Linked DNA regions of Homo sapiens: region 1 is linked to region 2. The links come from fine-mapping of genetic effects on gene expression. A gene starts in region 2. The other region holds a variant in brackets. All regions are shown on one strand. Distances are between the middles of the regions. Region 1 overlaps SPMIP11 (sperm microtubule inner protein 11). Region 2 holds the start of ADCY6 (adenylate cyclase 6).

Evidence for each region. PIP is the estimated chance that this variant, and not a neighbour inherited with it, causes the effect.
Region 1: its variant is fine-mapped to the expression of ADCY6 in whole blood (TOPMed, PIP above 0.99).

Annotation. Positions count from the first base shown.
Region 1 is chr12:48,758,389-48,761,289 of GRCh38, forward strand. SPMIP11 (sperm microtubule inner protein 11) reads left to right here. Exons shown (of 4, transcript NM_001351123.2): 2 at 821-943. Among named protein-coding and RNA genes, the nearest start is that of MIR4701, 12 kb to the right of the region's middle. The variant G/A (reference allele first, on the strand shown) is at 1,337.
Region 2 is chr12:48,787,519-48,790,419 of GRCh38, forward strand. ADCY6 (adenylate cyclase 6) reads right to left here and starts at 1,571. Exons shown (of 22, transcript NM_015270.5): 1 at 1,388-1,571. ADCY6-DT (ADCY6 divergent transcript) reads left to right here and starts at 1,629. Exons shown (of 3, transcript NR_110019.1): 1 at 1,629-1,709; 2 at 2,467-2,601; 3 at 2,795-2,901. RefSeq lists an enhancer at 1-518.

The DNA of each region.
Region 1 (2,901 bases), 29 kb before region 2:
AGGATGCAGCTTCACTGCTGCCACCTCCCGTCACTAGCGGATAACTTTATATGGCCACTGCTTCCTTGCAACCTTCTTTGATTCAAAATCTGAAACGGATGTGTTTGATTGGCCTAGCCAAAATTCTTTGTCCATATCCTTGCTGAAAGAGAGGTTGGATAAGGAAGAACTAGTCTATTCAGCCTCTATTGTGAGATACAGGTTTTGCTTCATAGGGAGTGATTCCCAAACATAATGAATGCTAGGTAGCCACTATAATACACCACCTTACCAGCCCCATCTCCTGTCCTTCTCCTCTTCACCCAGCACTCGAGGCTCCAAATCAAATAGCTCTCTGATGCCTTTCTAATGCTTCTAAACACTTGTCATTCTGCTGTCTGAAATGCTCTTCCTGATTCTACTGTAACCTACCTCCTTCTTTTCCTCCAAGACTTAGCTCAAACATGACTTCCACTATTAGACCATTTGAAGTTCTGCAAATATGCCAATCCCAGGAAAGGAATGTCTACCCAGATAAGGGCCTTTTTCACTTGGACTAACCCTAAGTATGTGTCCAATATCCTGATTCCAGAAGTTGGCCTCTTAAAATCCAGGAGTCAGGGAGAAGCAAGAGAGTGGTAAGGGAGGTCTTGTGATCACTGTGTTCTCTCTCCCTCCCCTCTGTCACAGCCATGGTGATTGGATTCCTGAGGTCCTGAAAATTGGATGTGAGTGGCTAGGAGAGATCCCTGCTATGCATCTGGTTAGCATGGAGACCAGGGAATCAGAGAATCAAATAGTCATTTGCCAAGTACTCAGAACGAGTCTACTCTAATTTCAGACCAGAAGGAACCAGAGCCTACTAGGCTTCCCCCCATTATCTCAAAAGATGGGAATTATTCCGTGCACCAGAATAGCCACACAAGATACCACGAAGCTGTCCGGAAGGTGTTGTTGAAGACGTGTAAGTACCTTGGGGTGGGCATCATGCTAGGAGAAAAAAAGATATGTCTGAGTTCCTAAAGAATGGCTGGGATGAGGCCGGGCTTGGTGGCTCATGTCTGTAATCCTAGCACTTTGGGAGGCCGAGGCAGGCGGATCACAAGGTCAGGAGTTCAAGACCAGCCTGGCCAACATAGTGAAACCCCATCTCTACTAAAAATACAAAAATTAGCCGGGCATGGTGGTGCATGCCTGTAGTCTCAGCTACTCAAGAGGCCTTGAAGCCGGGAGTTGGAGGTTGCGTGAGCCAAGATCGTGCCACTGCACTCCAGCTTGGGCAACAGAGTGACACTTTGTCTCAAAAAAAAAAAAAAGAATGGCTGGGATGTGGTTGGGTATGGTTATCAGGCAGGAA[G/A]AAAAAAAAAGAGCCAAGAGAAGAGACTGAGAGGAAGAGGGAGAAAGTAGACTTGGTGGGGTAAGCACGATATGATAAAATGAAAAAAAAAATTTTTTTTTGAGATGAGTCTTGCTCTGTCACCCAGCCTGGAGTGCAATGGGGCCATCTCAGCTCACTGCAACCTCTGCCTCCCAGGTTCAAGTGATTCTCTTGCCTCAGCCTCCTGAGTAGCTGAGATTACAGGTGCCTGCCACCATACCTGGCTAATTTTTGTATTTTTAGTAGAGGTTGGTTTGTCCAGGTTGGTCTCAAACTCCTGACCTCAGGTGATCCACCCACTTGGGCCTCCCAAAGTGCTGGGATTACAGGCGTGAGCCACCATGCCCATCAATGAAATGAAATTTGAATTAGACTTGGAAGCAGAAGATGTTTGAGTCCTAGTTCTGCCTCTTTTTTGATGTTTCACCTTTTCTTTTCTTTTCTTGGAAACAGGATCTCATTCTGTCACCCAGGCTGGAGTGCAGTGCTGCAATCATAGCTCACTGCAGCCTCGAACTCCTGGGCTCAAGTGATCTTCTTGCCTCAGTCTCCTGAGTAGCTGGGACTACAGGCATGCACCACCAAGCCTGGCTAATTTTTTAAAAACATTTTTGTAGAGAGGGAGTCATGCTATGTTGTCCAGGCTGGTGTCAAACTCCCAGGCTCAAGTGATCCTCCCACCTCGGCCTCCCACAGTGCTGGGATTACAGGTGTGAGCCACCACACCCAGCCCATTTACCCTTTATCAACCTACTCCCTCATTGGTTTTGCTGTTGTTGTTGTTTGTTATTGTTGTTTTGAGGCAGATTCTCACTCTATCGCCCAGGCTGTAGTGCAGTGCTACGATCTTGGCCCACTGCAACCTCCGCCTCCCTTGTTCAAGTGATTCTTGTGCCTCAGCCTCCTGAGTAGGTGGGACTACAGGAGTGCACCACCACCCCTGGCTAATTTTTGTATTTTTAGTAGAGACAGGGTTTCACCATGTTGGCCAGGCTGGTCTCGAACTCCTGATCTCAGGTGATCCATCTCCCTCGGCCTCCCAAAGTGCTGGGATTACAGGCGTGAGCCGCCACTTAGGGCCCCTCATTGGTTTAAAGGCAGGATGTTGGGGAGAGAAAATGCCTGAGCTATTGTTTTACTAATCTTTCAAAATTATTGGGAGAAAAAAGTATATTGTATATTATCATGCATTATCCCTTTGAGGAATAGTAAGCACAAGCTTTGGCATTTTATTGAACTGGGTTTAAACTGCAAACGAATTCTGTGACTTTAGGCAAGTTCCTTTAACCACAACCTCTCTGAACCATCTGGAAATGGGAATAATACTTTTTAGCACTATTGTCAAGAGAGAACATGTACATTTTAAAAAGCATGTAGCCAGCCTGGGCAACATGGTGAAATCCCATCTATAAAACATACACCTGGGCACAGTGGCTCATGCCTGTAATCCCAGCACTTTAGGAAGACGAGGCGGGCGGATCACTTGAGGTCAGGAGTTCGAGACCAGCCTGTCCAACATGGCGAAACCCCATCTCAACTAAAAA
Region 2 (2,901 bases):
TCCCAACATTTCTGGCACCCCATGCCAGACTGGTATGGCAGGAAACAGGGTAGAGCACTGTTCCAAGCCACAAAATTTCTCTATATGGTCCCCCAACCCACTTTGTCCAGCAACCCATCACTATGAGCCCTGGGAGCACAGACCACCTCCCTCCTCCCCAGAGTCAGGCTCCTAAGCCTTGTGCCTCTACCTTCTCCTCCCCTGAGTGTTGGTCCATTTGCACTCTCACAGATCTGCTGTTCTTCATACCACCGGCTCCCACAGCCACAGCCATGTCCCATTCAGCCTGGCAGGCCCAGGCTCAGTGCCTCCCAGACCTCAAGTCCCTCCCAAACCCTGATCAGGCTGAGACCAGAGTTTGGAACCAGCCAAGGCCAAGGCCCAGCCCTAAGGATGGCTCTGCCCACTGCCTTGCCAAGCCTTCCTGGCCACCTCCTGTCTATCCCATCCCCAGGGCCCATCTGCCCCTGCCCTCCTTGGCAAAAGGAGGCTCCAGGGGATTAAAAACGACTTCAGAAAGTTCATGGTAAGAGGCACTGCCCAGGCGGGGCCCAGCAGTGCCAGCACCACCCACCATACTCGGACATGGGCCTCAATTCTTCAATTCTGGGCCTTTCCAGATGTAGAGGAGCCTACCCAGGGCCTGTATCTGTCGGTCCAGTGCCCGCTGCCGCCTTCTCCCATCCCCAGTCCTCACTCTCCCTAAAGATTACAGAGGGCTCCCACATCACCCTTTACTATGCAACCCCCACCAGGTCCCTCCAGCTCACAGGGGTAATCTGGTAAGGAGAGGATATGGGCAAAGAGGCTCCCACGCCTGATTCCACCTCTAGCCTTTCAGTCGAGCCCCAGAGTCTGCTTTGAATAAAGTCAGCTCCCCTGCCCACCCTGCGGCAGGCCTTGGGGGATGTGGGGAGCCGACCCCACCCCTTTCATTCCCAAGGTTTTGGGTGAGGGGAAGGAGAGGGACTCCCGCAGACAGAGGGCATCCCTCCCTCTGCCCAGGCCGGTTCCTCTCCCCTAAATGGAATCTCCCCCAAACTCGGAGACACCCCACAGCCCCGCAGCAAAAAACTCAGGCCAGCCCCTCCCCCAGTACGTGCCAGATCCTCCTGGCCTCCGGGCCAGCCTGGAACTCGCCCCGTGGAGGGAGGCAGGCGGCGGGCGACGGGGGTGGCGAGCGCCGGACCTAGGAGTCCTCGATCCCACTGCCTCCATGACTTCCCTTTGCCAACCCCAACTCCCTCGGGCAACACTGCCGAGACGACCCGTCCAAGGCTTCGGCGCCCCCACCCACAAACTCTTGTCGAGAGCCGCTCGGGTGCGTTCCAATCCTGGCGCACCGGGAGCCCGAGCGGCCACTTCCCCTAGCCCTCAGCGCGCTCACCTGCCGGCCCGGCTCCGCGCCTGCCCTGGGCCCCCGCCCCGCCGCCCCCGCGGGCTCCGGCCGGCCGGCCGGCCGTCCCGCGGTCCTCCGAGCCCGCGCGTCCTGGCCGTCCCGCCCGCCGTCCGCCGTCCGCCGTCCGCCCGGCCCTCGCCCCCTCCCGAGCTGTCCAGCGCAGCCGCCCTCTACCCCGGATCCAGAAGTCCCCTCCCCGCTGGCTCCCGGACTCCCCGCCTTAAAGGCACAAGCTCCTTTTGTCTGGGCATCCCCCTCCCCCTCCCCAGAAGTGGGGGCCGAGTTGCCCACTCCCCTTCCTAGCAGCGGGGTAGGGGCGGAGGAGGCCAAATAATGGGACCCCTCCCTCCGCGCGCCCCCTCCTCTCCTCCGGCCGCTTCCTCCCCCAGTCCTGGGAAGACAAGCAGCTACTGTTCTGGGATCAAGACCCCGCGGGGAGGGGACCTCGCAGCCCGGTCCCCTTCCCTTCACCCCGGCCGCCTCCTCCGGCATTCCTCTCCCGCCCTCACCCCGGGGGTCCCCGAGCGCGCCCGCAAACCCACCCCTCACGGCTACATCCCCCGCCCCGCCCACCGAGGGTCGCCTTCCTTCCTGTCAGGGTCCCAGGGGTTGGGCCGGCGCCCCGCGCCCACTCTTCATCCCCAATTCCTCCCTGCCCCTGCCCCAGCCCCAGCCCCCACCTAGCCATTCCCGCCCTGCCTGTCACGGCCCTGCGCCCTCCCGCGGGAACTCAGTTTAATAATTAATTAAGCTCTCATTCCACAAGGCGCCAGGTGTGTGCGGCCTGCTTGCCCGCACACCACTTCTTTCCTCTTCCCCCCAGTCTCTGGGGCAGCGGCCCCGAGGCGAACCTCGGGGCCCAGTGGAGGGACCCAGGGAAGGGGCACTCTCCCTGCCGCCCCCACAACCCCCCGCCCTACTCTCTGGGAGCCCCTCCCCCGCACCTGCCAACTTGCAGCCTCACCCCCAGGCATCTTTTACCCAAAGGGCTGTGCTTCTCTGCTGGGGGTTGGAGGGGCTACTGGGGTGCATTGCTAAGTGCACGAACTGAGAAACTGGGTCTTTAGTTATTTCCAGCACGGAGCAGCTGCCCAAGTTACCTGGGAGATGGGAAAATCGTGTGAAAGCTGGTTAACCCTTTGAGGATTAGAGTAATGGTGGAAGCAGAAAGGAGAAGGAGTTTCACTCCAGGATGTACGTAGGTGAGTGTGACTTTAGAGGGGGTGCCATTCTGGAGCTGGGAAGAAGGCAGCCTGCCTGGCTTCCTTTTGAGGCCCCCTCTCCATTCCCTCAGTCAGACCTCTAGCTCCTCCTTCCAATTCAGCCCTTCCCCAAGCAGCCTATTCCCCACCCAAGATCCCAAGACCTAGGTATCTGAAGATGCTTCCTCCTCAGGACCAGCCCTCCCTGCAGTCCTGTCCTTCAAGACTCAAGTCTTGTCCACTCCAAATCACCACTGGGATTCCTAAGTCCAGGACAGAGCTTCAGGCAAGGAAAAGAAG